Linked DNA regions of Homo sapiens: regions 1 and 3 are each linked to region 2. The links come from fine-mapping of genetic effects on gene expression. A gene starts in region 2. Each other region holds a variant in brackets. All regions are shown on one strand. Distances are between the middles of the regions. Region 1 overlaps ATP6V1C1 (ATPase H+ transporting V1 subunit C1). Region 2 holds the start of MAILR (macrophage interferon regulatory lncRNA). Region 3 has its middle 34 kb from the start of ODF1.

The links. PIP is the estimated chance that this variant, and not a neighbour inherited with it, causes the effect.
Region 1: its variant is fine-mapped to the expression of MAILR in whole blood (TOPMed, PIP above 0.99).
Region 3: its variant is fine-mapped to the expression of MAILR in whole blood (GTEx, PIP 0.98).

What each region holds. Positions count from the first base shown.
Region 1 is chr8:103,063,528-103,073,482 of GRCh38, forward strand. It overlaps ATP6V1C1 (ATPase H+ transporting V1 subunit C1), which reads left to right. Exons shown (of 13, transcript NM_001695.5): 11 at 1,187-1,284; 12 at 2,794-2,920; 13 at 5,125-9,524. The coding sequence ends at 5,220. Among named protein-coding and RNA genes, the nearest start is that of ATP6V1C1, 47 kb to the left of the region's middle. The variant GA/G (reference allele first, on the strand shown) is at 3,452.
Region 2 is chr8:102,859,765-102,870,105 of GRCh38, forward strand. It overlaps MAILR (macrophage interferon regulatory lncRNA), which reads left to right and starts at 4,507. Exons shown (of 3, transcript NR_126339.1): 1 at 4,507-4,859. AZIN1 (antizyme inhibitor 1) reads right to left here and starts at 4,399. Exons shown (of 12, transcript NM_148174.4): 1 at 4,043-4,399. RefSeq lists enhancers at 2,543-3,276, 4,745-5,477 and silencers at 3,626-3,855, 4,516-4,865.
Region 3 is chr8:102,580,064-102,590,404 of GRCh38, forward strand. No RefSeq gene overlaps it. Among named protein-coding and RNA genes, the nearest start is that of ODF1, 34 kb to the left of the region's middle. RefSeq lists enhancers at 3,562-4,061, 5,942-6,171, 10,221-10,341. The variant A/G (reference allele first, on the strand shown) is at 5,867.

The DNA.
Region 1 (9,955 bases), 200 kb after region 2:
TATCAGACATTAATTTTAAATGCAGTATTCTGGTTAACATCCTTGTAGGTGAAGGGTGATTTTAGTTAAGTAACGAAGTTCTTTTCAGTAAGACTTTTCACTTTCTTGAGGCAGATTTTTTCAATGCCTCAATCTTTTATTGAAGCAATTTGTATTTAAGCTATTGGAGAATTGGTGTGTTCTAGGTGTAATGGGAAACGAGTGGAATTGTGAAAATCAAAGATGGTGTTAACTTTCTTGCCATCTTCAAGTGTGGGATTACTGTGAAGACTAAAAGCTTGTTTGGAAAGGGAAACATAATGAGTGAAAATGTGTTTCTCTTAATAATGTAAGAGGAAATTAAGGGAAATATTGAAAATTATTTCCAAGTACTTTATAAGCCATATCATCTCAACTAGGAGGAAACTCATTCTAACCAAGTAATGTCAAAATAACCAGCTTTTTAGGGCAAACCCAAAATCCTTTTAAAAAATAGATATTTTGACAAGATTTTCACTTGTTTTGCTATCCTTTTGCTTAAATTAATTGTTTGGTACATCCAAATGAGCCTAATAATGTTATCCAAGGAAGTGTTAGCTGAATCTTTTAAGTATGGAGAGAGGAGGTATTTGAAATCCGCTTAATCCTACTAAATATTTGAAGTTTAAAAAGAACTTAACGCTATACAATTTAGAATGTAAAGAGGTTTTAGATGTCTAGACCAACTCCCTTTTTTACAGATGGGAAAACTAAGAGCTAGTGCTGTTAAATGACTTGCCTACATAACTGTTTATCTTTGTTACTAAGAAGTTGTTTGTAAGTTGAATTTCATTTTACATGTATTAAATGTTTTAGAGTGTTGTGTAGTAAATTCAGATCTTTATATTTTGATTTTCCAACCTAAGGCATTTCTATATTTTGTACCATTTTAACTACTTTTATTAAAATATATACCTTTTTCTGTGTTAGTGAATTGGTTCAATGCATTTTAGTGTCTGTTGAGATCTCTCTGTAGTGGCGAACCTTTTAATCTAATTTAAGATAAGGTATCTGAGATAATGAGAATAATAGTGAAACATGTAGAAAGTGAATTATGCGACTTAATTCTTCTATAGATTCCTAATAGGTAGTCACTTAAAAAAATATTTGGTCTATCTAATTGCTATTTCTAAGACCAAATTTGTGGTAATTTTTTTTCTTTTTATAGGGACCACTTGTACGGTGGCTGAAAGTGAATTTTAGTGAAGCATTTATTGCATGGATTCACGTGAAAGCATTACGGGTTTTCGTTGAGTCTGTTTTAAGGTAAAGCAAGTTAATTGCCAAACTTGGAACTGAAGAGTTCATAGATTCCTTACATTGGACCTCTTTATTATAACACAGTCCAGCAATAGGAAATTGATTTGGAGAAATCAAAGGGCCAATCATGAGACAGAGATTATCAGTATCATCATACAGCTTATAAAATGCATATTAGTCTTGTTCTTTAGCACCAGGTTTAGAAAAAGAGATTTATGCTGCCATACCCTCAGGTTCTTTTTCTTGTGTAGGTACTTAAAAGTAGATTAAATATTAACCAATATTTGTTTAAAAGGAAGATCCTTCAGGTGTTTTATATGTCATTGGATACATAGTATGCTAATGACTTATTGAAATCATTTCATATTAACCTAAAGTATTTTAATATTTTGAGATATTTAAAAAATCATATTCTGGTCCAATGTATGGGTTGCTCATATTAGAAATAGTTTTAAAAAACCCAAAACTTGGCCGGGTGCAGTGGCTCACGCCTGTAATCCCAGCACTTTGGGAGGCTGAGGCAGGCAGATCACGAGGTCCGATTGAGACCATCCTGGCTAACAGGGTGAAATCCTGTCTCTACTAAAAATATAAAAAAATTAGCCAAGTGTGGTGGCACGCGCCTGTAGTGCTGGCTACTTGGGAGACTGAGGCAGAGAATCACTTGAACCCAGGAGGTGGAGGTTGCAGTGAGCCGAGATTGTGCCACTGCACTATTGCACCACTGCACTCCAGCCTGGGCAACAGAGCGAGACTCCGCCTGAAAAAACAAAACACAAAACAAACAAAAAAACACCCCAAAACTTACATGTAACCATGCTCACTATTTTTAAATTTTTTCAAATTTTCAAACTATATGTGGGTAACCTCATGCTATTACCATAAAAGTATCTGCTGACCTTACTTCTTCTTATTTCCTGAGGATATTCATATATTACCTTAAAAATTGAATGGTAAGCCAGGCGTGGTGGCTCATGCCTGTAGTCCCAGCACTTTGGGAGGCCAAGGCGGGCAGATCATGAGGTCAAGAGATTGAGACCATGCTGGCCAACATGGTGAAACCCCGTCTCTACTAAAAATAGAAAAATCAGCTGGGCATGGTGGTATGTGCCTGTAATCCCAGCTACTCAGGAGGCTGAGGCAGGAGAATGGCTTGAACCCAGGAGGCGGAGATTGCAGTGAGCCAGGATTGCACCACTGCACTCCAGCCTGGCAACAGTAAGAATCCGTCTCAAAAGAAAAAAAAAATGAATGGTAATTGAAGTAATTCCTAGTAATTGGCGTAGAGATTTCTAGTGGACAGTGGGGACCAAAGGTTTGCGTTTCTGTTTATATTGAAGTTTTTTGTGTATATTAGTTTCAGTTTCTATATATATTAGTTGAACTTGTAAAGGTAAAGGGAGATATTCTCTCCCCGTTAACCATGATTAAAGAGTATGAGAATATTTGCTTTGAAAAGAAAATCTCTTTACATGTTTGCTTGTATTGCGTACTGTATTTCTGCTTTTTTGTAAGGTATGGCTTGCCAGTGAACTTCCAAGCAATGCTACTTCAGCCCAATAAGAAAACTTTGAAGAAACTGAGAGAAGTATTACATGAATTGTATAAACATCTAGACAGCAGTGCAGCAGCTATTATTGATGTAAGTACTTATTAGCCCAGTAGAGTAAGAATTGAAGTGAATTTCAGAAAAAAAATGATTGAAAGAAGATAGACAGAAAAGGGAGGGTAAGTATGAAACTTAATCATTTTTTATTACTTTGAGGTTCTCAATTTGTTATGTAAACATAGTAATTTACATTGTTTACCCTGTTTTATACTAATTATATCTGTGTTTTGCTTCTTGGCATTTCTACAAGCTAGTAATTATCTTGCTGTGTATCAGATGTTTATAGCTGCAGAAATACAGAAACCAGTGATACTAGTTATTTACAAAAACTATAAATTGCAGAGAGGAAGAAAATAAGCAGTTATTTTAATTTTATTTGGTAGAAGCGATAGAGTCAATAGATGAGTATTTTCAAGGTAGGTTCATTTTTCTAAAATGGCGTAGCTGGGCGTGGTGGGACATGTTGGTAGTCCCAGCAACTGAGGAGGCTGAGGCGGGAGGATCACTTGAGCCCAGGCCTTCGAGACCAACCTGGGTAACATAGTAAGATCCCATCTGAAAAAA[GA/G]AAAAAAAAAACAGACCAAAAAATGTATTATGTGTTTATATCTTCTTTTAAACAAAACTGTTATTTTTTAAACAAAAGAAGATATAAACAGAGTTACTTGTGTTTTTTTGTTGTTGCTGTTTAAAATTGTAGTGGGCCGCTGGGCGTGGTGGCTCACGCCTGTAATCCCAGCACTTTGGGAGGCCGAGGCGGGGGGATCACCTTAAGTCAGGAGTTTGAGACCGGCCTGGCCAACATGGTGAAACCCCGTCTCTACTAGAAATACAATAATTAGCTGGGCGTGGCAGCGGTCACCTATAATCCCAGCTACTCGGGAGCCTGAGGCAGGAGAATCGCTTGAACCTCGGGGGGTGGTTGCAGTGAGCCAAGATTGCGCCACTGCACTCCAGCCTGGGTGACAGAGGGAGACTCCGTCCCAAAAAAAAAAAAAAAAAAAATTGTAGTGGGCTTTTACTTTATATTTCTGGTTTTAAATATCTTGCTGATTTTTTTTTTTCTCTTTAAAAGTTTAGGGTAGATGGTAGCATCTCACATAGGCATTAATTAGAACTATGAAAAATCAGTTTTTCTTGATAGAAGGAAATGCGGGAAATGACTTGCTACACTTTTTTTCTTTTTCTTTTTTTTTTTTTTTTTTTCGAGATGGAGTTTCGCTCTTTTGCCCAGGCTGGAGTGAAGTGGCGTGATCTTGGCTCACTGCAGTCTCTGCCTCCTGGGTTCAGGCAGTTCTCCTGCCTCAGCCTCCTGAGTAGCTGGGATTATGCCTGGCTAATTTTTGTATTTTTAGTAGAGCTGCGGTTTCACCATGTTGGCCAGGCTGGTCTTGAACTCCTGACCTCAGGTGATCCGCCCACCTCGGCCTCCCAAAGTGCTAAGATTACAGGCGTGAGCCACCTTGCCCCCGGCCAACTTGCTCCACTTTCATGCAATTGTGGATAAAATGAGAGGTATAATTATTTGATACATAAATGTTCTAGCAGTAAATTCTTATAACATGCATTTATAATAAGTGTTATCCTTGCTTGTTTTTTGGCTCTGTTGCTCAGGCTAGAATGCAGTGGCATGGTTTTGGCTCACTGCAGCCTCAACCTCTATGCTCAAGTGATCCTCCCACCTCAGCCTTCCAAGTAGTTGGGACTATAGGCACGCAGTACCACTGCTGGTTAATGTTTTTATTTTTATTTTTTGTAGCGATAGAGTCTCACTATGTTGCCCAGACTGGTCTTGAACTCCTGGGCTCAAGGCCTTGGCCTCTCAAAGTGCTGATATTACAGAATAAGTATTACTTATAAATCATACTTGCTTTATTTTTACTCCATATTTTGTAAGTCTTGTATCCCATCAACTCAGTATTCTAAGTCCAAGATTTAAAAAGTTAATTTTTACAGTATACATAAAAAAGGTTGGTGGGATCATGCTAAATACATATGCAGTCAGAATGCTTGAACCTGGCTTTACCACTCACTGTCTGTGTTTCCTAGGAGAAGTCAGTCTTTCAGAGATTGTTTTCTCATTTGCAAAATGGGAATAATGTCTAACTCAGATAAATTAGCCTTAAGTGCATACATTTAGCCCAGAGTAGATGTTCAATAAAAAGGTAAATGTTAATACTTGCTTTCTTTTTTTGAGTTCTGTAAATACAAAATTGAATAATTGTCTGTTTTTTCCATAGGCTCCTATGGATATTCCAGGTTTAAACCTGAGTCAACAAGAATACTACCCCTATGTGTACTACAAGATTGATTGCAACTTGCTGGAATTCAAGTGAAAATGGGCTCCTCCCCCGACAATCCTGTCCTTGTGTTTGTGTGTGCTAACAGAAATAAGTTGCAGTATGGTCGTACTTTTAACTCTAGTATCCTTTGCTTGCTTCTTACGCCCTTTCCTAGGTGAATTCTCCCACAGTGGTCTGTATCTCAACATTTTCTTTTTAAAGGAAAAAATATATATATATAGTTTCTTTTTATTGATCAGGTCTGTAAATGTGTACTAAAAAAATCAGAGTTTATTTATAAACAAAATAGTTTATTTAAAGAGAAGGTCTCTTCCTTATTGATATCATGGTATGCATTAATTCCATTTGTTACTATTGTGCACAAAAGCCCTGTTCACAGGGGAATGGTGTAAACATTTATACTGTTTTGTTCACTGTATTTAGTAGACATAACTGTTGAATAGTTACTGAATCATGATGTAAAGAATATGTGACCATCTTCAGGTATGGGATTTCTGAACGTTTCAAATTTCAATCAATGAGCACTGTCAACACCCACAGGAGAGAATAAAATTACCTGTGCAAAGGTGTATTGTGGTGTGTGTAACTTAAGATTACAGTTCTGTTTGAGAGTTAAATGATGTCATAGCTCACTTGCTATGCTGCTTCCAGGATTTTGTTATATGCTGAGGTGTAACCATTTGTGTTGTCTGACTTTCGTATGATTTAATTGAGCCAAATTTGGGTCAGAACACAAATTTGAAGATGACTTTTCAGTATATGATGGGTATTTACATTTGAACACTAGAATTTTAGGTCTCTCAAATAATTAAGAATAGAGCCAGTTTTGAATAAAGTCTAGCAGAACTATGCAGCTTTAGTCATTTGTTTTGTCTAAGTCTGTATTTTATGTGTTGTCTTCTTAAGATCTATAATTTTGGCATTTATGTCATTTGTGACATAGTCTGAAAATAGAGACATTGTTGGCCTTTAAAATCTCAGAAATGAATGACTTAATTTAGTGTCCTGAAAGAGCTTTTAAAAGAGGATTTTGTGGCAATGTTTCTCTTACTACGTACTCACAGGTTTGCAAATGGGAAAAAAGTTTACATTTCAGTTTAGGGGCATATCTAAGCTATGCTATTCCCTTTAGAAAATTAGCCTCCAAAATCTTTTGTTTCAAAATATTATATTATTTCATAAATAATTTCAAGCAAATACAGACATCCACAATGTAGAACATGAGAGACCCCCTCCCTCAATTTCCACCTCCCAAGGGAAGTTTATGTATTTTTCTAGGCCCTTTTCTATGTCTTTACATCTCTGTCTCACACACACACACGTATACACACACACAGTTTATTTTTAATAAAATAGGATTATACCACACACATCCTGTCACTTGCTTTTTTGCTTAAGAGTATATCTAAGAGAATCCTTTGTGTCAGTGAAGCTGGAGCTACCTCATTCTTTTAACTGGCTGCGTGGCGTTCCATTGAGTGTCTGTCATCATGTGTTTAGCCGAGTGGATGGATAGTCTGCTTGTTTTTAGTTTTTGCTCTTAACAAACACTGCTGCAGTCAGCATCCTTGCACAGATTTCTTTGTATACTTGTATTAGTATTTCTGTAAGATCTGAGAAGTGGAATTTGTAGGGTCATAGGTTATGTACACTTAAGTTTTTGACACTCACTGCCAAGTCATCTGTCAGAATTCTAAACTAAAGACATGTTTGGAGTGTGGATTTATCTTCAGTTTTTCTTTGGACAAGAGGAAGCTGTGAAAGATTTTGCTATCAGAAAATTTTGGTTCTTTGTCTTTTGCACATGTTCTTTGAGTCTTAGTATCTGTAACGTGGCGCTACTCTCTCTATCATGGGGGGGCATGTTTTGACATTAAATTGACTTTTAAGAAAAACATGTCACTAACCTGAAGCTCAGCCACACAGTGACTTTTAAGGTTTTATTTAGACTTTACTGTTGTTCTCATGAGAGTAGGTACAGACTGCATAAGGTTTAGAATCCCAGCATATGTCTGAAACGACGGGACTTTCACTGTGATTTCCACCAGAGAAATTATAGCAGAGTGGCTGAGCATGTGCTCTGAGGCCAGGCCCCAGCTCTGCTGCTGACGAGCTGTGTGGTCCTGGGCAGAGTGGTCTCCGAGTTCCAGTCCCTCCTCTGTAAAATGGGCATGATTAGAGTGCCCACCGCATTAGGGATGTTGGGGTGAGTCAGTGTGACCCCACGTGCACAGAAAGTGCTGCGAGTGGTGCATGGTGAGAGGTTGATGCAGGTACTTAGCCCTTGGGGAACACAGGTAGTTCCTTTTCACTGTGTTTAATTTGGGAAAATCCAGATCCACATCATTGTAGAGTCTGAGGGTTAGAAGGAAGTCATTGTGTCTAACATAACAACAGAGCAGTTTGTGTCACTGAGCTCCAGTCTGTGCTGGATTATTGATATTGTTGGTGGCGGTCACCATTCCTGGAAAGGGACTGTCCCAAGCCACTTACCTTCCCGAGGAGTCTGCTGGTTCTCCTTGAGGATAGTGCTTAGATAACAGACTCATTAAACATTTACTGAGTGTCTGTCAGGGATCATTCACATCCACATCATCCTCCCGGCCCCTCCCCGTGTTGTTCATGGAGGGAGTACTGGCGGTCCCCATTTTCATGTATGGAGACTTCAGGTGAAAGAAGTTAAGTGAATTCTTTGTTGAGTCACAAATCTTGAGCCAGTCAGAATTTGAACCTAAGATTTTTGACTGCTGGTTGTCACACTTCCCGCCCCACACTCAACTGTTGTGTGAATGAGCCAGACACATTGCTTAACCTGAGTCCGAGATGGACAATGGTATAGGAAAGATATTCGGTATGGAGAATCAGATGTTAACTTGTGTTGCTATTTTTGTTTTGTTTTGTTTTGTTTTGTTTTTGAGACAAGGTCTTGCTCTGTCACCCAGGCTAGAGTGCAGTGGCATGATCAGGGCTTACTGCAGCCTCACCCTCGATTTCCTGGGCTCAAGCAATCCTCCCACCTCAGCCCCCAAGTAGCTGGGCCTACAGGTGCGTGCTACCACGCCTGGCCAATTTTTTAAATTTTAGCACAGATGAGGTCTCACTATGTTGCCCGGGCTGGTCTCGAACTCCTGAGCTCAAGGGATCCTCCCGCCTCAGCCTCCCAAAGTGCTGGTGTTACAGGCATAAGCCACCACGCCTGGCCTGTGTTGCTATTATATTTGGCAGGAACCCAGAGTCCAGAACATTTCATCTATGATGGGTTAGATAATGTGTCTAGTTGTTTGCATGCCAATTTCAGTAGCCTCAGTTATTCAACCTAGGAGATTTTTCTACCTCTTTACTACCCTGCTGAAGTTGCTCTTCAGCAGAAAATCTTTGTGGAACACATTCCACACTTTGAAATCTTCGTGGAACAAAAGATATTTGTGGAACCAATCTTTGTGGAACATATTCCAGCTTTTTGAATGAGTGCATATCCAGTAGTACCTTTAAAGTAACACTTTGTACATAACAAATACTCAGCAAATGTGAAACTTTATTTGCTCTTACTTCAAAATTAGTCCAAAATGTTGGAAATAAAATATAAGACATTGATCTAGATATGAGGTTTTTCTCCTTCATTCTCAGCTGTCGAAGAAATCAAAGTAGCATATGCACAAGGTTAAAAACCACATATACAAATACTATAGAACAGCTTATAATGAAAACCTTGCCTGCCTTTATAAAAAATGTGATTATCTTCTTCTGTTAATGTCAATAAAAGATGGTTTGTCCTAGAAGGTCTATAAATGGTATTATGTTCTGGAGGAAACCTAGCAAAAACTTTGCTAGTTTAGTACTTGTCTCTAAATTGATGTTCACCCATTTCAATATTGCACTTATTAATGGTCTTTATTTTTCTAGCATAGATAACAATTGATTCTTTAGATTCATATATGGAGGTAATTCTTGCTTTCTAAAGAAAGGAATATGGCACATTGGAACCATTTTATTCACCAGTGGATTTACCCTTAGAGTATTTTTAGATCTGAGCTGATGACTTGTGAGAGAAAAAGGGAACAGAGTAAAGCCATGGAAGCCATGAACAGTAAGAGACTGCCGCCTGGCATGGTTTCTTCTTCTGCAGAAGATGAAACTGAGGAGAAACAAGACAACATCCTTCATACCAGGAATGGTCAAGATAATGCAAGAAGAAAAAAGCTTTCAAACAAATCAGAAGGCAGTCAACAAACAGAAAGGGGGACATTCCTTCCCTGGCAGTTACTCAAAACTGAAATTGCTTATTGTGTACACCGGGGCTTGTACTTGGGGAATTTAATAAAAATGCTCATTACCAAGCTCCAGAGAGATGTGGTTTAAAGTCTTAAGTAGATCCAAGGAATAACCTACATTTTAAACAAATACCCAGGAGAATCAGAGGCTAGGGGTTAGTTGTAATCGGATACTACCTTTTAATGATTCTTCCTCTGAACCCTCAGATTGGGGTGTTGATTTAGAATTTGTAAGCATCTTGAGGTCTCATTCAAATAGTGATTCTTCTCTATTGACAGAGACCACACTTAATAGAATCATCATGGGTAAATCAGCTTTTTCTACTGTCACTTGAAGAAATATTCCACGTCGTTAAATCAGTAGAACTGGAGAGTTCTGTCTCAGCAGAAATTGATCAATAAAGATGTCTTTTGCCCTTGGAAGGCCATAGAATATCAAGTTGAAATTTGCAAAAACTCTAAAATGATCAAGGTCACATTTTCATCTTTTAATTGAG
Region 2 (10,341 bases):
GGCGGAGGTTGCAGTGAGCCGAGATTGTGCCACTGTACTCCAGCCCAGGCAACAGAGGGAGAACCTGTCTCCAAAAAAAGAAAAGAAAAGAAAAAATGAGCCAGATGTGACAGTATGCACCTATAGTCTCAACTACTGAGGAGGTTAAGGCAGGAGGACTGCTTGAGCCCAGGAATTTGAGTCCAGCCTGGGCAACACAGCAAGACCCAAAAGGTGCATAGGATAAGCACTTCTTATAAACACATACAGGATAGATAAGCACTTCTTATAAGCACTTACATACAGGATAGATAGAATGTTTATCCGGACAGTTAGGATAAAAAAGCATGAAGAAGGACTTGTTAAATGGAAATGCGGAGAAAAGGCAGTATGGAAAAAAATAAATTATTTTCACTTAGAATGGTGTATGTAAACACTGCAAATTCTCTAACACCTTAGAGAATAGCACAGAGAGGGCTCGGTTGGTCAGTAAGAAACAAGAAGCATTTTATGTAATTTATTTTATTTTATTTTTTTGAGACGGAGTCTCGCTCTGTCACCCAGGCTGGAGTGCAGTGGCGCGATCTTGGCTCACTGCAACCTCTGCCTCTCAGATTCAAGCAATTCTCCTGCCTCAGCCTTCCGAGTAGCTCGGATTACAGGCATGTGCCACCATGCCCGGCTAATTTTTTTGTATTTTTAGTAGAGATGGGGTTTCATCATATTGGCCAGGCTGGTCTCGAACTCCTGACCTTGCGATCCACCCACCTCGACCTCCCAAAGTGCTGGGATTACAGGCATGAGCCACCACGCCTGGCCTATTTTATTTTCTTAAAAATAAAATAGGAATTCAAGCTGGCCTTGAATTCCTGAGCTCAAGTGATCCGCCTGCATCAGCCTTCCGAAGTGCTGGGATTACAGGTGCAAACCACCGTGCCCAACTACAAAAACTTTCTATCACTTTGACAGTAACTATTACAAACTTAGTATCTCAAAATTATCAGTACGTCTCTGAAAACACAATGCCTTTACCAATGATTTTTAAAATCGTTCTGTGGTATTCTTTGTAAAAACTCCAAACCCCAGTCTAATCATGAGAAAAACATCAGGTAAACCCCAAGTTTAGGGGAGGGGAGTATTCTACCAGATATCTGGCAGCACTTTTCTAGACTGTGATGGTAATGAAAAACAAAGGAAGACTGAGAAACTGTCACAAACCAAAGAAAACTGGGAAGACATGACAACTAAATACAATGTGGTAACTTGGATTCTGGAACAGAAAAAGACATTAAAGAAAAATTGGCGAAATCCAAATAAAAGTCTCGAACGTTTCATAGTGCCAAAGTCAGTTTCTTAGTTTTAACAAATGTACTGTAATAACGTAAGATGTTACTAATAACTGGGTGGGAAGTATGAAGAAACTGTATCTTTGTGACTTTGCTGCGCAACTAAGATACTCCAAAATAAAGTTTATTTTTCATTATTATTATTATTTTTTGAGATGAAGTCCCGCTGCTCTTGTCCCCCAGGCTGGAGTGCCCTGGTGAGATCTCGGCTCACTGCAACCTCTGCCTCCCCAGTTCAAGCGATTCTCCTGACTCAGCCTCCCGAGGAGCTGGGATTACAGGAGCCAGCCACCACGCCCGGCTAATTTTTGTATTTTTAGTAGAGATGGAGTTTCAGCATGTTAGCCAGGCTGGTCTCCTGACCTCAGGCAATCCACCCGCCTCAGCCTCCCAAAGTGCTGGGATTACAGGCTTGAGCCACCGCGCCCGGCCTAATAAAGTTTATTTTTAAAAAAAACAACCAAGGGACAGTCACCTAATGGGCTACTACTCAGCAACACAAATAATCTACTGATAATCTACAGATAAAGACAACAGGGATGAATATTAAAAATGTGCTGAGTTAAAAGAAGCCTTTTATACCAAAGAATGCATACTGTATGATTCCATTCATGTGGAAAGTCTGGAATAGACGAAAATAATCTATGGGTTTAAAAAAAAAAATCAAGATCAGCCGGGCGCAGTGGCTCACGCTTGTAATCCCAGCACTCTGGGAGGCCGAGATGGGCGGATCATGAGGTCAGGAGTTCCAGACCAGCCTGACCAACAGTGAAACCCCTTTTCTACTAAAAATACAAAAATTAGCTGGGCGTGGTGGGCGCCTGTAATCCCAGCTGCTCGGGAGGCTGAGGAAGGAGAATCGCTTGAACCTGGGAAGCGGAGGTTGCAGTAAGCCGAGATTGTGCCACTGCACTCCAGCCTGGGCGACAGAGCTAGACTCCAAAAAAAAAAAACCAAGATCGTGGTTGGCTCTGTGGTGACTGGAAGACGATTTGAAAGGACAAGAAAAAACTTTTGAGGGTGATGGCGATGTTCTACATCTTGACAAAAGGTTTAGGTTACACAGCTGTATTTTTGTCAACGTTCATCAAATTGCATACTTAAGACTTGTGGGTTTATACTGATGTGAATTTTACCCTCTAAGATTTAAAAAATAGTAAGCGGTACTGAGCTCTATTTAATATGCACATACTAAAGTTGGAGGGGTCTCCAACTTTACTTTGAAATGCATCGACAAATAAGGTAAAATGTTAATTACAGAATCTAGGTGGAAGTATAACTCTTTTTCACCTTCTGTTTGAAAACGTATGTGATAAAACCTTGGGGGAGAAAGGCACTGACTACTCGACCTCACTTATCACCACCGATAATCATTTTCTTTTGGAGTCTTTCCTAAACTCCTTGGGGCTTATTTCTAATCATGATCAGCATCTGCACGCTCTCGTATATGTAAAAGAAATTAATGAATTATGAGGGCCTTTCTAGACAATCATGAGCCATGTTTCTGCCAACCCTTGCTGTATTTGATGTGCTTTGATGTACTTCTACTTTGTGCTTTGATGCACCTCTACATCAACCTTCGCTGAGCACAAGGCAATTCCCCCTCCTTTGAGTCCTTAGATTCCCACCCAGTCTGGGAATTCACGATAGAAACACGACGGGACACAGAACTAATATAACCAAGATGCCACCACAAAATTCAGTTAAATGTGCTGAAACATGAGGCGGTAAACTGTGTCCCCGACTGTTTCGGGTTTCTGAACCAGCAGCTTTGTCTACGAAACACACATTCAGGATACCGTGTAAGGGTTAGAACATGTTACCACCACCAACTGTTGGCAGTCAAGACAGTAGTTGATAAGCCACCCGTCTACCAATCTCCCTCTTTCTGCCTAGGAACCATGGCGCGGACGGAAAAACGAAGCCATGGTGACTAATCCTCAGGCTCCAGGAGGTGACTGGGGTGAGTGAAGGCGACTTGACCCAATCAGGAGCGCCGCAGGGGCGGAGCAGCAGCCTCGAGGCTTCCAGAAGGGGCCAAAAGCCTCTCGCTGGCTACCTGACACCGGGGCTTCCCCGCCGCCAGGCCCCAAGTGGCGTCAACTTTCCTCCACCAGAGGGGGACCGCGCTCCCCGCGCCCCCCAGGAATCCGACTTCCTCCGCAGCTGTCACCAGAGGCCGGCGCGGGGCCCGCCCCGCTCCATTCATAACCAGGACCCCAGCCGTTGCAGCCCACAGCGCCGCCCGCCCGCCGGGCTTCGGGAGGCAAAGGTGGCGGCGGCGCACCGCGGAGTAGGGGCTGCGGGACCCCGGCCCCTCAGGGCTGCGGCCGGGCCCCCTCCCCGGAAACAGCAATGCACCACGGGAGAGGGGTGGGGGCCGCACGCCGCCAGGAGGGGACGGCGACCCCCGGCGGCGAGACCCCCGCGCGCTCCCCCACTGGCACACGCCCCCTCGCCCCAACTGCTGCGGCTCCGGCTCCGCCAAGCGTCCAGCAGCCGCCCGAAGGTCCTGAGGCGCGGCCCGCCGCCCAGCCCCGCCGCCGCCGCCGCCGCCGGGGGCACAGACAGCCGCCGCCGCCATGTTCGAGGCGGCCGGCCGCGGGGCGCTGCGGGGACGTCTTAAGGGCGGCGGGGCCCAGCCGGAGCCCCCCAGCCGCCCCCCAAGGCCAGCCCCGCGTCCTGGCCCCTCCCGCGCTCCTCGGCTCGGTACTCACGTGAGATAACGGCCCAAAGAGTCGGGTAAAGCGTCTTCTCTTTTTCGGCGGAATTTTTAAAGAGGGATGTGGTTACCTTGAGCAGAAATACCCAAGGCGGCCTGGGCCATAGGCTGCGGGAACGACTTGGGGGTAAAAGCGCGGCACCGACACCAGCTGTGTGCAGCAGTGGCGGCGGCGGCCGAAGGAGAAATAGAACAGCGCAGGCAAAAGAAGAAAGGCGCGGGCTGGGTGGGAAGAGGATTCGGACTCGTCACACTGCAGAGCAGCAGAGCGAGAAAGGATGAGAAGAGGCAGAGAAGGCGACGGCAGAAGAAAAAAGGAAAAACTGCGGCCGCGATCAGAGCCTGAAAGTGTGAGAAGGCGGCGCCAGCGACGCCAGTATTTATATTAGGGGGCGTGGCCTGGTGACATCACAGCTGGCCGGGCAGCCGCGCGAGCGGGGCGGAACCCGGTTGCAGCCCGGAGAAAAGGGAGGGGGACGGAAGAGGAAGGAGGACTGAGCCCGGGAGAGAGAGGGGAGGGGTCGGCGCGCGACCGGGTCATGCAGGTGCAGACTGGCCGGTCGCTTCCCGCCCTCCAGCCACCCGCAGCTCCCCGGCAGGCGAAGGGCGGCCGCGCGGGTGTGGGCCGAGAGAGGGAGGCGGCTCGGCTGGAGCGCGCCGTCCGCCCGACCCCCGCCGCCTCTCGGGCGCCTGCGCTCACGCTGCGGGGCCCAGCGCATTGTGAGCCGGGTCGAGCTCCACGCTGGCAGCGTCTGAGAGCTGTCCTGGGCCGGAGGTGGCGCGAACCCTGTGCGGCCTAGAGTGGGCCTGGGGTAAGCCTGTCGGCGCCGCTGCCGAGCCTTCGCGTCCAGCTCCCTCCGCTTTGTGAGGCCTGTAGTTTACCCTGGGGAGTGTCCTCCCGGGCTGAGGCGCCCGCCCTCGGTGATGCGGTACTCCTTTAGGGAAGCGAGTTCCTCGTGGCCAGAAAGGACCGGCCCAGTGTCCGGGTGTTAAAAAGGGTTGTGACCACGTGAAAATGTCCTCAGTGCTCGAACGTTGCAATACGGTGCAGTGGAAATTTTTTAAAGGAATATGGCTTTTATGTCTTCATTTTTAAAAGGATTGGTGGAGTCAGTCCCAAGCAGGACCCGCGTTGGAGAGGGGATTACTGATGTTACAAGCGCACATTACTTCAATCCCCTAGGTCTCATTTTCGCGGTCGTTTTAATTTTTCTACTCCACAACAGACTTTTTTTTACTAGGGGTTCTAAGATTACCTACATAGCTTTTAATTTATTTTCATCTTTTTTAGATGCCTCAGCACTAATGATCATGATCAGAGACCCCGAGTTCTCTCGTGCTGCTACGCTTCGCAACACATAGCACAAATGGAATATGTGTTGACACACCCCTCTGAAGTTAAGATCTTTGATATTAAGACCCTGACTTTTTTCCCTTTCATTCTTCCGAACCCTCTGTGTACTTTGAGCAGCACTGTGGTTGATTAATAAATCATCAAATGTGAAAGGAAGAAAGCGACCTTCCTGTGTGGAAAAGCAGGGTATCTTGCGAGGCTGTATGAGAGAGTATTCGGTAGAATCAGGAGCTGTGGACGCATTCCTGATTTTGTTTTTCCTTATTTTGCTCGGCTATATCTTGGCTCTGTCTTTTATTTCTTCAAAGTTCTGTTCTATTCAGAACATTTGAAAACACAGCCATTCACTAGACCCTCTCTGGTGGAGGAAGAAAAACTAGAGATGAATACAATATTTGAAACCTTGCTTACAATCTAGCAGGGGAAATAAGACAGCAATACAAAATAAATTGTTGGCTGATACAAATAAAATGCTGCAAGGACCAAGTGGAGGGAAGAGATGATTGCAGCTAAGTGAGAGAAAGGCTGCTGGGGAAAGGTAAAGAGTGATTTTGAGAAAAGCCTTTCTAGACAAAGGTGCTTCCTTTTTCACCAAACTCGCCTGTTTGGTGATTTTGAGAGTAGATGTTCCAGTGTTCCAGGCAAGGGAAACGGATGAGAGAAGGCACAGAAGTGGGTGGGTTTAGAGAATTGTGAATAGCCTTTCTGGTTCCAGCATAGGGGCATGGTTGCAAATGAGATTGAAACGGTAGATTAGGGTGACATCAAGAAGACATTGGAGGCTGGGCGCAGTGGCTTACACCTGTATTCCCAGCACTTTGGGAGGCCGAGGAGGGCGGATTACCTGAGGTCGGGAATTCGAGACCAGCCTGACCAACATGGAGAAAACCCGGCTCTACTAAAACTACAAAATTAGCTGGGCATGGTGGCACATGGCTGTAATCCAGCTACTCAGGAAGCTGAGGCAGGAGAATCTCTAGAACCTGGGAGGCGGAAGTTGCAGTGAGCCGAGATCACACCATTGCACTCTCCAGTCTGGGCAACAAGAGTGAAACTGCGTCTCAAAAAAAAAAAAAAAAACAAAACAAAAAATTGGAACTTGGACTTTATTCTGGAACCATATAAACAGGAACATGATATGCTCAAAAATATGTTTTTTAAAAGATTACTCCAGCACCAGTGGGTGGGATTGAAAAGAGGTAGAAAGTTTGGAAGTGAAGGAAACTCTTACAGCAGTTTTCTGGGGTCTTTTGGTTTACTTATTTATTTATTTTAGTACTAAGGGGGCCGGGCGTGGTTGCTCACTTGGTGGCCTAGTGATGGTGTGGTGGCCTAGCACTTTGGGAGGCTGAGGCGGACGGATCACTTGAGGCCAGTAGTTTGAAACCAGTCTGCCCAACATAGCAAAACCCTGTCTCTGCTAAAACTACAAAAATTAACCAGGCGTGCTGGTACACGCATGTAGTCCCAGCTACTTGGGAGGCGGTGGCAGGAGAATTGCTTGAACCCGGGAGGCAGAGGTTGCAGTGAGCTGAGATCGCACCACTGCACTCCAGCCTGTGCAACAGAGATGTACTTTGTCTCAAATAATAATAATAATAATGAAAGTACTAAGGGGATTCAGAATGGATGGGAGGGAAAACGCACAGAGAGAGTAGAGATAATCTTGACTTTCAAAGGAGATGAGAAGGTGTCAAGTGATTTGGGGATATTAAGCTTATCAACAGGGAGAATTCTGGAGCCATAAACAGAGATAGAAATAGAAGGACCCTGCCAGGAGCAGTGGCTCACGCCTGTAATCCCAGCACTTTGGGAGGCTGAGGCAGGCGGGTCACGAAGTCAAGAGATCAAGACCACCCTGGCCAACATGACGAAACCCCGTCTCTACTAAAAATACAAAAATTAGCTGGGCATGGTGGCATGTGCCCTGTAGTCCCAGCTACTTGGGAGGCTGAGGCAGGAGAATGGCATGAACCTGGGAGGCGTAGCTTGCAGTGAGCCGAGATGGTGCCACTGCACTCCAGCCTGGGCGACAGAGCGAGACTCCATCTCAAAAAAAAAAAAAAAAAAAAAAAAAGAGGGAGTAAGATGAGGCTAGGTTTTTTTGCCTTTTGTGTGTGTATGTGACAGTGTGTCACTCTGTTGCTCAGGCTGAAGTGGAGAGGCATAGTCTCGTCTCACTGCAACCTCCACCTCCTGGGACCAAGTGATCATCCCACCTCAGCCTCTGAGTAGCTGGAACTACTGGTGCACCACCATGCCTGGCTAATTTTTTGTGAAGACAGGTCTTGCCATGTTGCCCAGGTTGGTTTTGACCTCCTGGACTCAAGTGATCCACATACTTAGGCCTCGCAAAATGCTGGGATTATAGGCATGAGCCATCACACCAGGCCTGAGGCTGCTGTGATACAGAGTTTTAGCTGTTGAAGAAATAGCCAGGTAAAAATGGTCCAGAGGCCTCTGAAAATGGGGAGATCTAGAACCCTTTGGGTGTGAATTTGGGAGCCTTTCCTACAGACATGATAATTAAGGAATTATTGAGGTATAGAAGAAAAGAGTATAAGCACAGGATCTAGAGAATGCCAGAGATAAAAGACAGCCGCAGAGAAGACCAAGAGGCCGAAGAAAATGACAATAGTGCAATGCTATGCTATTCAAGGAAGAGGGTGCTTATCGCAAAACGGGATGAGTGATCAGGGTTGTCATATCCTCAAACAGGTTGGAAAGGGGATTCTGATTTTATCAATGCTATAGGAACTATATGCCATAGGACCCTAACTCTTATTTAAATCAATTTGTCTCTGGCAAAATTGGTTTTGTTATATGGTTAATGGTTTGACTTAAAGTTACAGTTTCCAAGAACCTATGGATGACATCAAATGAGGATGTACTGTATTAAGTACTATTGTATATAGTAGATTATGGCATTGTAGCATTATAGTATATTATTGCAGTCTTAACAGTTGGGAGTATAATGTGTTTTAGTTCCCTGCCAGCCCACAGAATTATTCAGATGAACCAATAAAATTTTGTTTTGAAATTCAAGGCACATCTCACTTTCTTTTTTTTTTTTTTCTCCTAAAAGACTCTCGCTCTGTTTCCCAGGCTGGAGTGCAGTGGCATGATTATAGCTCACTGCAACCTCCACCTCCTGGGCTCAAGCGATTCTCTCACTTCAGCCTCTCGAATAGCTGGGATGACGGGTGTGCACCACCATGCCTAATTTTTTTTTTAAATTTTTTGTAGACATGGGGTTTCACCATGTTGTCAGAGCTAATCTCGAACTCCTGGGCTCAAGCGATCCTCCCACCTCAACCTCCCAAAGTGTTGGGATTACAGGTGTGAGCCACCACACCAAGCGTATCTCACCTTCTTGATACTACAAAACCTTCCTCAGTCCCCTGTTTGTTCTCTTTGCTCCCAAGTGCAATCCCTGTGTGGGCCTGCATAGCTTACACTACTTTCCTCTTCTTGTCTGAGGGAATGTGTAACTAATAAACTGTTGTTGATCTTTAAAGAAAAAAAAAGTTTGGGTTTATATTCCAAAGGCGTTGGAAAAGGCTTCAATCATGGAAATGATTTGTATTTTAGAAAAGGTGAGAAAGTGGGGCTGGAAACGTAAAATACTCTTAAGTTTTTGGCAGGCAGAACATACGTGAAGCCATTGTAGTCATTCATGGAGAATAGCAAGGGCCTGGAAAGAATTTTATCTGTAACCTTTAACAGAGTAATATCAGCAGAGTAGGAGAAACAGGAAGTTGTAAAGGGTTGAGTGAGGGGCACTTGCAGTCAGTGAATGTTGACCTCTCTTTAAGTAGATGATACTGGACTAGAGCCTAAGCCAACATCATTTGCACCATGAAGCAACTCAACAACATTTATTATGAAAAGTATGTGCCCACACAATTAGTATTTTTGTATTCAGATTTAAAGAATAATGCTAGCTTTACATGAATACAATAGTGCTTTGAAAACTATACCACAGTAGGCCGGGCACGGTGGCTCATGCCTGTAATCCCAGCACTTTGGGAGGCCGAGGCGTTCAAGACCAGCCTGACCAACATGGAGAAACCCCGTCCCTACTAAAAATACAAAATTAGCTGGGCATGGTGGTCATGCCTGTAATGCCAGCTACTCAGGAGGCTGAGGCAGGAGAATCACTTGAACCTGGGAGGCAGAAGTTGCAGTGAGCTGAGATTGCGCCATTGCGTTCCAGCCTAGGCAACAAGAGTGATACTCCATCTCAAAAAACAAAAAAACAAAAAGAAAACTGTACTACATTGGAATAGACAACATAGTGTAACTTTAATGGAAGGATAGCTATCTAATGAGAATGGCATATTTAACTGTGTTTGGGGTTTTAGTTATTTTGCCAAGTCAGGTTACTCATACACAAATATGCAGGTAGTGCCAGCAAAAATATTATCATTAAATAGAGCCCTAAGATAAAATAATATAATACTGTTCCTACTTAAATCACCTAGGTCCATTGATTCAAACTTATATGCTTTTGTGCCAATAGATATGAAAGATTGAATGAATTAGATGATTGATAAGGGTAAGTCACTCAACATAAATAGGTAAGGCTGGGCATGATAGGTCATGCCTGTAGTCTCAGCACTTTGGAAGGCTGAGGTGGGGGGATCCCTTGAGCCTAATAATTCAAGACCAGCCTGGGCAACATGGTGAAATGCTGTTTGTACAAAAAATACAAAAATTAGCCAGGCATGGTGGCATGTGCCTGTAGTCCTAGCTTCTTGGGAGGCTGAGGCAGGAGAATCACTTGAGCCCAGTAGGTCGAGGCTGCTGGGATCGTGCCACTGCACTCCAGCCTGGGTGACAGAGCAAGACTCAGTCTCAAAAAAAAAAAAAAGGTAAACAAAATCATCACCCTATAATAGAAATCTCATGTAACCACATATATAAAAGTTAAGAGTTTA
Region 3 (10,341 bases), 280 kb before region 2:
AAATACCACAGACTTGGTGGCTTAAACAAAAGACATTTCTTTTCTTTTCTTTTCTTTTTGAGACAGTCTGGCTCTGTCACCCAGGCTAGAGTGAAGTGGTGTGATCTTGGCTCACTGCAACCTCTGCCTCCTGGGTTAAAGCAATTCTCCTGCCTCAACCTCCCAGGTAGCTGGGACTACAGGTGCACGCCACCATGCCCAGCTAATTTTTTGTATTTTTAGTAGAGATGGGGTTTCACCATGTTGGTCAGGCTGATCTCAAACTCTTATTCTGAAGCAATCCACCTGCCTTGGCCTCCCAAAGTGCCAGACCTTTATTTTCTCACAGTACATTTTTTTTTTTTTTTGAGACGGAGTCTTGCTCTGTTGCCCTGGCTGGAGTGCAGTGGCGTGATCTCGGCTCACTGCAACCTCTGCCTCCCGGGTTCAAGCAATTCTCTGCCTAAGCCTCCAGTGTAGCTGGGATTACAAGCACCCACCACCACGCCTGGCTAATTTTTGTATTTTTAGTAGAGACGGGGTTTCACCATCTTGGCCAGGCCGGTCTTGAACTCCTGACCTCATGATCCACCCAGCTTGGCCTCCCAAAGTGCTGGGATTACAGGCATGAGCCACCGTGCCTGGCTGTTTTCTCACAGTTCTGTAGGCTGGGTTCCAAGATGAAGGTGTCAGGGAGTTTGGTGTCTCCTGGGGCCTCTCTGCTTGGCTGGCGGGTGGCTGTCTTCTTGCTGTGTCCTCATGTGGGCTTTTCTCCATGCGCATTCCTGATGTCTCCTTATCTTCTTATAAGGACACCAGTCCTATTGGATTAGAGGCCTACCCTTATGACCTGATTTAACCTTAATCACCTCTTTCAAGGCAGAATCCCCAAATACAATCACTTTCTAAGGTTCTGGAGGGTTAGGGCTTTAGTATAGGAATCTGGGAGGGGGCACAATTCAGTTCATAGCACACAGGAACTGAGAGATAATACAAGTTTGCCATTTTTATGTTAATTTTTTTTTTTTTTAAGAGACAGGGTCTGGCTATGTTGCCCAGGCTAGCCTCGAAACCCTGGGCTCAAGTGATCCTCCCACCTCAGCTTCCCAAATAGCTGGCACTTCAGGCAGGCGCCACCATACCCAGCTGTAAATGTTTGTTGTTTTAAGCACTGAGACTGGGGTAGTTTGGTACACAGCAATCAATAACCAAAACAAGCACCTAGGCAAGACTCTGAGAGGCTGTGAAATCGTCTCATCCTCTATGGCTGAGGCATGAGAAGGCTATGGCTTCCCTGGGCCATAGAAGCAGCCAGTAGTAAGGATTTCTTTGAAAAGAGATGTGGGTCTGCTGAGCCAGGCTACTCCTGCCCCATCTCACCCATCCCACACCCCACTGGGCTGGAAGGAGTGCTTCCACATCACCTCAACTAGTGCGGGAAGTGTTGAGAGAACACATAGAGTATCTGAAGTGTGTTCCCTGAGGTTTGGAGGAACAGGGCTGGTACCTGTCTCCCTGGGAAACTCTAAAAGGGAGAGGTTCTGCCTCGGGGTGACTCCGTCAGGCAGCAGAGCCTGATGAGAGTGAGAGGGCAAGGGGCAAGCCTGTTTCCCAGGATCCAGGTGGACACTGGCAGGAGGAGGCTGGATTTGGGGGCCCTTGAAAGGGACATGGGTGAAAGAGCTTTCTGGAGCTGTTTGACCCAGTGAAGAGGGACACTCAAGTGTTTCTCCCACCTCGACCTCCCAAGTAGCTGGGACTACAGGCACGTGCCACCACGCCCACTAACTGTTGTATTTTTTTTGTAGAGAAGAGGTCTCGCTATGCTGCCCAGGTTGGTCTTGAACTTCTCGATTCAAACGATCCTCCAACCTCACCTCCCAAAGTGTTGGGATTACAGGCATGAGCCACCAGCCCCCAGTCAATATCACTATCTTTTTTATATTTATGTATTTTTTACAACTTTTTAAATAAAATATTATATAATATGTAAAAATATTTTTCTATCTTACCCCTTCAAGATGCAGGCGGGCTGCTGGCTGGCCTGGGCTTCCAGATGTCAGCCTTACTTGCCCTTTGCCTTTTGGTGACTCTGTCTTCTTAGGGAGCTGCACGGCCTGGATGTTAACTATCACTGTCTTTCACAAGGTTCTATTTTATTCCATTGTATGCAGAGCTATGTAAGTTGAGTTGCCTGTGTGTGACTGTAAGGCTCTGGCTCTGGGAGTGTGAGGCAGAGCTTTAGACCTGACTGTGCGTCACACTCCTGGGGGGCTTGTGGAAATGCAGATCCTCACTCAACAGGGGTGGGTGAGCCTAAGAGTCTCCATTTCTTTGCTGTTTTTATTTTGAGATAGGGTCTTGCTATGTCATCCAGACTGGTCTTGAACTCTAGGCTCAAGCTATCCTTCTGCCTCAGCCTCCCCAGTAGCTGGGACTACAGGTACATGTCGCCGCACCTGGCATCTCTATTCCAACAAGTGATGCAATGCTGCTGGCCCATGGCTCACACTTGACTTGTATGATTGTGAGCAAGAAACTGGGGGCCAATGCCCAGCGATGGGAGGCTCTGAAGCACTCACCCAAATGGTTCTTGAAGAATCAGGGATGGTGCATCTGCCCCATGCCAAGTAAGGACTGTAGGGATTCAAGAAACGCCTTTCCTGCCCGTCAGCCACCTCCCTTCCACCCGCACAACCCCAAGCCAGCAGCTAGTGGATGGGAGAGGGGAGCGAAGGGAGAGAGAGAGGTAGCCACATTTCCTCTTTCACTGTGTACAAGGCCGTTCCAAGCTGAGGAGGGAAGAGCTTTCAAATTGAACCAGGATTCGGGATTTCCTTGTCAGTCTGGACTGGACTTTTTTGTTTGTTTGTTTGTTTGTTTGTTTTTACCCAAAATAAGCTGAAAAGCTGTAGAATCTGCCCTAGACCTCATACGGACAAGGCTCGGTGCGGTGGCTCACGCCTGTAATCCCAGCACTTTGGGAGGCCGAGGTGAGTGGATCACCTGAGGTCAGGAGTTCGAGACCAGTCTGGCCAACATGGTAAAACCCTGTCTCTACTAAAAATACAAAATTAGCCGGGCATGGTGCTGTCACTTAGAACCTGGGAGGCAGGGCCAGGCACAGTGGCTCACGCCTGTAATCCCAGCACTTTGGGAGGCCAAGGCGGGCAGATCACGAAGTCAGGAGATCAAGACCAACGTGGCTAACACGGTGAAACCCCGTCTCTACTAAAAATACAAAAAATTAGCCGGGCATGGTGGTGGGCGCCTGTAGTCCCAGCTACTCGGGAGGCTGAGGCAGGAGAATGGCGTGAACCCGGGAGGCGGAGCTTGCAGTAAGCTGAGATTGCACCACTGCACTCCAGCCTGGGTGACACGGCAAGACTCTGTCTCAAAAAAAAAAAAAAAAGACCTCACTCAGCCAGAGAGGAAGCAGCCCACACCATGGGTGAAAAGGCAGTGGGGAGGAAGAAAAAGCTGGCTTCCTGCAAGCCCCTGCATTCCACTGGCTTCACATGAAGGGGCCCCTGATGCCCTCAGCCTTGCCAAGGCCTCTGTTCTGTCTCCTCTGCTTCTCCCAGAGCTACAGGCCCTAAGACTGCCCTCCCTCTCCTGTCTCATCATTTTCGCTCTCTCTCTCTGTTAGATCATTCCCAGCAGCATGAAAACCTGATGCTTCCTTCCTTTACCAAGCAAAACCAAAACAAGACAAATCCTTCCTCAACCCCTTGCTGCATTCAGCCACAGTTCTCAGTAAAACTCCACAGGAAGTCCCCACATGCTCCAGTTCTTTGCTTCTCATTCACTTAAAAATACATATATATTTAAAATTGGGAAATATGTTTATAAAGGGGGCTAAAAAAAGATTTTCTTGCTCCTTGGATGAATAACAAACATCTCTGAGGCTTCCTTTTCTTAACTATAGCAAAGGATGTGGTCTTGCTGTGTTTTGAGAGCATGAAATAAAATAATTCTGTCAACCTCCACAGACAAAAGTAGGCATGTACTCAGTCATACCTACGATGATATATCATATCCTGGTAAGTCCCTGGATCACCTTCTCCTCCCTCCCTGCTCCCACCGTGTCTCAGCTCCTTGTAGGCTTCAATCTCTGGGACTGGGCCTGAGCTAAGAATTGCAAAGTAAAAATGTTATTGAGCCAATGGGCTTGCTGCCCGATGCTCATGGTAGCCAGTACTGTGGCCACAGCTTTTAAGAAAAGAAAGGCTTTATCGTGTAGCCAGGCAGCAAAGAGATAGGCTCAAGTCTGTCTCCTTGATTTGGGGTCTGGGGCAAGTTTTAAGGGGTCAGAGGGCAAAGGAAAAGATTCGGGAATGATGGATTGGCAGGGTCTGATTGGAGGGCTTCAGATTGGCCCATTTATGGTAAGGTATGTTGGGGTGGATTATAGTCCTGGATCTTCCTTCCAACGGACCCCTTGCTTCTGAAAGAGTTCCTGTGGTCAAGTTCCACTCATGTCCCAGTCTTCTTGGTTCCACAGGCAGGAGTCATGTGTTCCAGGTGTCATTAGAGGTCAAAGCTTTTTCTTTTGTGCATGCCTGGGCTGCATGACTTGCAGTCTTGGCTCTGTTATGCCTACAAGGTAACTTGACATTCTGTTATCAACAGAGTAGGCCCAATTTGGGCTGGTCCTGCAGTTACAAAATCAGCAGTCAAAAGGGCAGTAATGATCCCATAGACCATGAATTCTATCCACCAGCCCGCAGTGCACTCACAGGGCTCTGGTGATTTCTAGATCTTTCTCCCTGTTTCCATATGGTCACACCCTCTTCTTTCAGACTCTGCAGGTTCTGAGGGCTTTGATGTGCCAGCCAGGTGCTGTGGGGTTTTAGAGACTTACCCAACACCTTCCTGCCCTCAGGAGTTCACCAGAGGGAAGAGCAACGCAATCCAGACTTCACCCGGGAATAGTTGTGTGGCTTTGGCCGAGATGTTTCTCCTCCCTGAGTGCCCATTTCTTCATCTACAAAATAGGGAGAATAATAAATACTTTGCAGGACTGTTGTGAAAATGTCACGGTGAAACCTAGCTACTGGGATTCACACAACACAGAAATTGTTTTGTTTTGCCTGTTGATTAAAAATGGATCAACGTCATAAAAAGAAATGGAATTTACTTCTCTCTAAAGACACGTAAACACGTTGGAGATGAAAAATAATGTATAGGAACACACAGTAACAGCAGAGAGGCTGGCAGGAAAGCAGTTGGGGGATGCTTCAGTTCTGTTGATAAGTAAACCCCAACTTGCCATGTGAAAGCTGAAAGGTTACGTCAACCTTTCAGCTTTGGTGCCACCGCTAGGGAGCGTCGGTTTGCATGACTCTAGCTTGACTGCAAAGTGATTCTGCTTTCCCTGCGGAAGGGCAGAGACAACATAGATAATTGTCAAGAACTAAGCTCAGGCAGGAATTGCATTTTCATTTTCATTTCATTTCTAAATTTAGTTCTTAATCCATGTGACAAATATAATAAAAGAGACTGCTGAGTGCCAAGGGAGCAAGAGAAACCTGCATTTTGGTCTTTCCTTTGTAAAATACCTCCTCAAGAACAAACAGTATTACATCACAATGTTAATTAGATTGCCGGGGCTCTGGAGAGCACATTATTAGAGGAATTTATTAATATAAATCTCACGATAATAAAGGGACACTGAATATCTTGCTTTGAGAGGTTTCTTGTTTGATTTCCTGGGGGATTTCTTTTGATTCATATCTATCTGGAAATGAATGTAAAACATGAAAATATAGTTTGTGTTAATTTCTCTCTGAAATGTTTTCTGTTTTGTTTTTGCTTCTGCGGGGATGGGGTGCAGCAAGCGCCCTCGGAGCTGTACTTCTCACACACTTTATTCAGGATTAGAAGG[A/G]GGGTGTTCGCTACCCTCTAGTGGCTGTCTCTGGTCTCCTTGCCAGGTAGAAACTGCTGGGCCAACACCCCACAGAACAGGCATCCACCCACCTCCAGGGTCAGCAGAAGAGGCGAGAAGTCTCCAGGCCAGGCAGGAGAGGGAGACAGGAAAATTACTTCCCATGGGGCAGTTCCTTCTGCTCCCCAACCCCACTCCCAGGCAGGAGAACAGGCAGGTTACCAGCAGCTGCAGGAGACCCCCTGACTCCAGGCAGCACCCAAGAGGCCCCAGCGGGGATGGTAGGAGGGCTGGCCCCTCAAAGGAAGCTAACGCGGAAGCCACTCTTGCCTTGTGCCTGGGTACTGAGAGAGGAAGGAAGGAGGCCTGTGGCCCAAGGGTGCCCCTCACCTTGCTGTACCAACATGGGCATGCCATGAGGGCTGAATGTCCTCGGTGGTCTCATGTCCCATGTTCACTGTGCCATCCAGATGGGTTGCCGACAAGCCCTCCATGTGTGAGTCTGTATCTGCTGCCTATCATGGTGGGATAGGAAGGGTTGGGGAAGACTCTAAGTAGAGGGGGTGCTCCCTCTTGTGGGAGAGTCCCCAGGGACCCTGCATCCTGCCACAGACTGCCCCCCACCACCTCCACCCCCTTTCAGGGAAACGGCTATGGTTAACTGTGACTATACTTGTTATGATTTTCTTTTTAAGAGAGTGGTGTTTATTCCATGATCAGTACAGACCAAATGCATATGCACGGTAGGAAAGTCAAACCAGTCAGTGACTCCAGAGTTTGCCCAACACCGAGTCACCAGGGTCGTGATGTAGTGTGGGTTCTCATGGCATGTATAACCTCACCAACTTTGCATGATTTGAATGTAGAGAAGGGCAGTGCTGCCAGGCATGGTGGCACATGCCTGTAGTCCCAGCTACTTGGGATGGGAGGCAGGGATGGGAAGATCTCTTGAGATCAGGAGTTTGAGATCAGCCTGGGTGACATAGGGACATACTGTCTCTAAAAACTAAAAAAAAAATTAAAAAGTAAGGAAAAAAGAGAGAGAAAGTCAGTGTTGCCTCCCAACTCTTTAAGGAACATTTTTTGCCTTCGGAGAGGAGGACACTGAAGTGCAGAGCCCCCCCGTGAGCTCTGTCAGGACACCAAGGAAGCAGGCAGAGGAGAGCCCAGGCCTGGGGTTTGGAGGCTCTAGCTCAGCACTGTGAAATAGAATTTTCTGCCATGGTGGAAATGTCCTATATCTGCACATCCAACATCCAACACGGTAGTCATTTATGGCTACTGAGCACTTCTTGAGACTCTGGAGGTCCATGGATGCCTGTCCTACATGGTTGTTGGCTAGTACAGCTAAGAAACTGAATTTTAAATTATGTTTGGTTGCTATTAATTTGAATTTAAAAGGCCACACGTAACCAGTGGCTATGGTACTGGACAGTGCAGTTCTAGAGACAATGTGAGAGGGAGACCTTTGTAATCCTAGAGCTGTGTATGAGGGTAGTCTCAGAATGAGACCCATCAGCAACATTTTAAGAGTAAAATTGGTGATTAATGGTGCAAGTTTGCTAGTGAAGGCAGGCCTCAGATGAGGTGCACACATTCATTTATCCACCATCCAACAAATCTCTTCCCCGCTACCTTGGCACAATGTTCAATTAGGATTTATTGGGTCACGTGGTTGGCCTCCCAGCTAGACAGATGCTGAGGGCTGAGACCCTGCCCCATTCATCTTGGTATCCTTGGCACCACACACTGTTACCTGATGTGTTGTAGAATCTCAAAAGTTGTTGAATGCAGTCATTCATTGAATGAATGGAGCTGGGCCAGGCCTTTGGGGAGATGCACAGATCAATTAGACATAGATCATGCCCCCAACGACCTATGGTTTGATCATAATACTTAAAATACTAGACAAGAAGACTTGAGTGAAGGCACTGCATTGCGCTGGACACATAGTAGGCCCAAAATAAATGTTAATTCCTTTCCTCCCTTCCTCTCTTACACTCCCTCTAGGACTCACCCTCCAAAAATTTCTATAAAAGGGATAAAATGCTCAAGGGTTTAGAGGAGGCTAAGGTTAATTTTGTCTGGAGAACCAATGAGGGCTTCCTGGAGGAGGTAGCATTGGATCTAGCTCATCCAGATCTCTGAGCAGCATGAACAAAGACATAGAGGGATGGGGATCAGTTCAATTTAGTTTGAGGAAGGGTATATGAAGAGAAGAAGTAGAAACCAGGGTAGGAAAATCCTTTGATTCTTAGGCTACTGAAGGCTCTTGAGCATGGTATTATAAATCTGGATTTTATTACCAGAGAGACAGACATCCCTGTGCTCTCTGCAGACTCAGTTATCTAACTACTGGCTATGTGATGACCCAAGCACACGACTTCACTCCTCTGAGCTTCACTTTCTTCATCTGTAAAACGGGAATGATACTACTTATTCATTCAAAATACAAACAAGAATGCATAGTACCTATACACTGTTCTCATGGTTTTCCACGTGGTAAGCTTTTTTATATTATCACATACAAGGTTGACCTTGTATTTATTTTATGGTGTTATCCTAATTTAATTAACCACTCCTCTATTCATGGATATTCAAATTGCTTCTAATCATTGCAAAAAATTGTACATATATCTACAGAATAAATTCCTAAAGTGGCATTGCCAAACCAAAGGGTATACAAGATTTAGATTTTTTTTTTTTTTTTTTTTTTTTGTAGGCAGAGTCTGACTCTGTTGCCTGGGCTGTAGTGCAGTGGAGCAGGAGCGATCATAGCTCACTACAGCCTCAACTTCCTGAGCTCCAGTGATCCTCCCACCTCAGCATCCCAAGTAGCTGGGTCTACAAGTTTGTGACACCACACCTGGCTAATTTTTTGTATTTTTAGTAGAGACAAGGTATTGCCATGTTGCCCAGGCTGGTCTTGAACTCCTGGGCCAAAGTGATCTGCCCACCTCAGCCTCCCAAAGTGCTGGGATTACAGGCATGAGCCACCTGCGCCCGGCCTGAAATTTAGATTTTGACAGAATTACCAAATTGCTTTCTAGAAAGAGTGAATCAATTTCCACTCTCATCAACAATATATGAAAGGATCTGTTTTCTCTGCCTTCACTAAAAGTCTTACCAGAATTTTTTGGTCTGTACCAATCTGAAAGACTTTAAATTGCTATCTAATTGTAGTTTTAATTTGCATTTATTTTATTCTGAGCAGGCTTGGGCATCTTTTCAATGTTTAAAAGCCATTTGTATTTTCTGCCCTGGGAACTGCCTATTTGCAGCCTTTGGCCATTTCAATTTGGTTATTAGCCTTTTTCTTACTGAATGATAGGAATTTCTTATTTATTAAAGAAATTAGCCCGTAGAATAAGGTTGCAAATGTTTTTCCTAAATTGCCATTTATCTCTTACTCTGTCTATTTCTCTCCCAGATATTTTTAATCTATATGTATCAGATTGGCTATTCTTTTCCTTCGTGGTTTCTGGATTTCTAATCATGCTCAGGAAGGCCTTCCCTACTCCAAGAAAATAAGTGAAATCTTTGATCTATCTATATTTATTCCGGAGGGAGGAGACAGGGAATTCTGCTTTACTTTTTTTTCCACGTGGCAGTGGCCCTAACACCGTTTCTCAGGATTCCTTTGAACGGTAAGTGCCATTCAAGAGCCAGTCTGGGGGCCCTGCTTAGCGGAAGAGCAGGTATTGATTAGATGCCTGATGTATTTGGAATGCCATTTTATTTAATCCTCACCACTGCTCTGTGAGCTCTTGATATCCTTGTTTTTCAAAAGAAGGAACTGAGGTTCAGAGAGATGGAGTAAGTGGCCCACAGTCGCACAGCCAGGAAGTGGCCGTGCTGGGATTTGAATGCAGATCAGTCTGATTGCAGTCCGTGCTCTTTCTGCGAGCCACAATCATGATTCAAAGGGAGAAGCGGGGCTTCACGGAAGTATTGAACGGGTGACTTTTCAGACTTCTCATCCTCTTCATTCCTTCCCTCCAAAGCCCTCCTGTACTGTGTTAGGAGAACTGTAAAGCACAATAACCCCTGTTTATTGGTTCCTGAGCCACTAGGGATAGTTATGAGCTGCCCAACTGACCAAAGCGCCCTTGGCCAGAAGAGAGATGTCTGTCCCAGAAAAGCTGCCTACTAATCAGGAACGCTGACAATGAGCTGTTACATAAACAAGGAATCAACTTTTACTGTGTTCGCTGAAAGGTTGATTTGTAACAGCAGCTAGCTAGCATTAACCTAAGTATGGTCACAAGCTGCATAACAACATTTTGGTCAACGAGGGAACCACGTAGATGACGGTGGTCCCATAAGATTATAGTACCATGTTTTATTGTGCCTTTTCTATGTTTAGACATGCTTAGATACACAAATACTTACCACTGTGTTACGTTTGCCTACAGTATTCAGTAGAGTAACATGCTGCACAGGCTTGTAGCCTAGGAGCAGTAGGCTCTGCCATC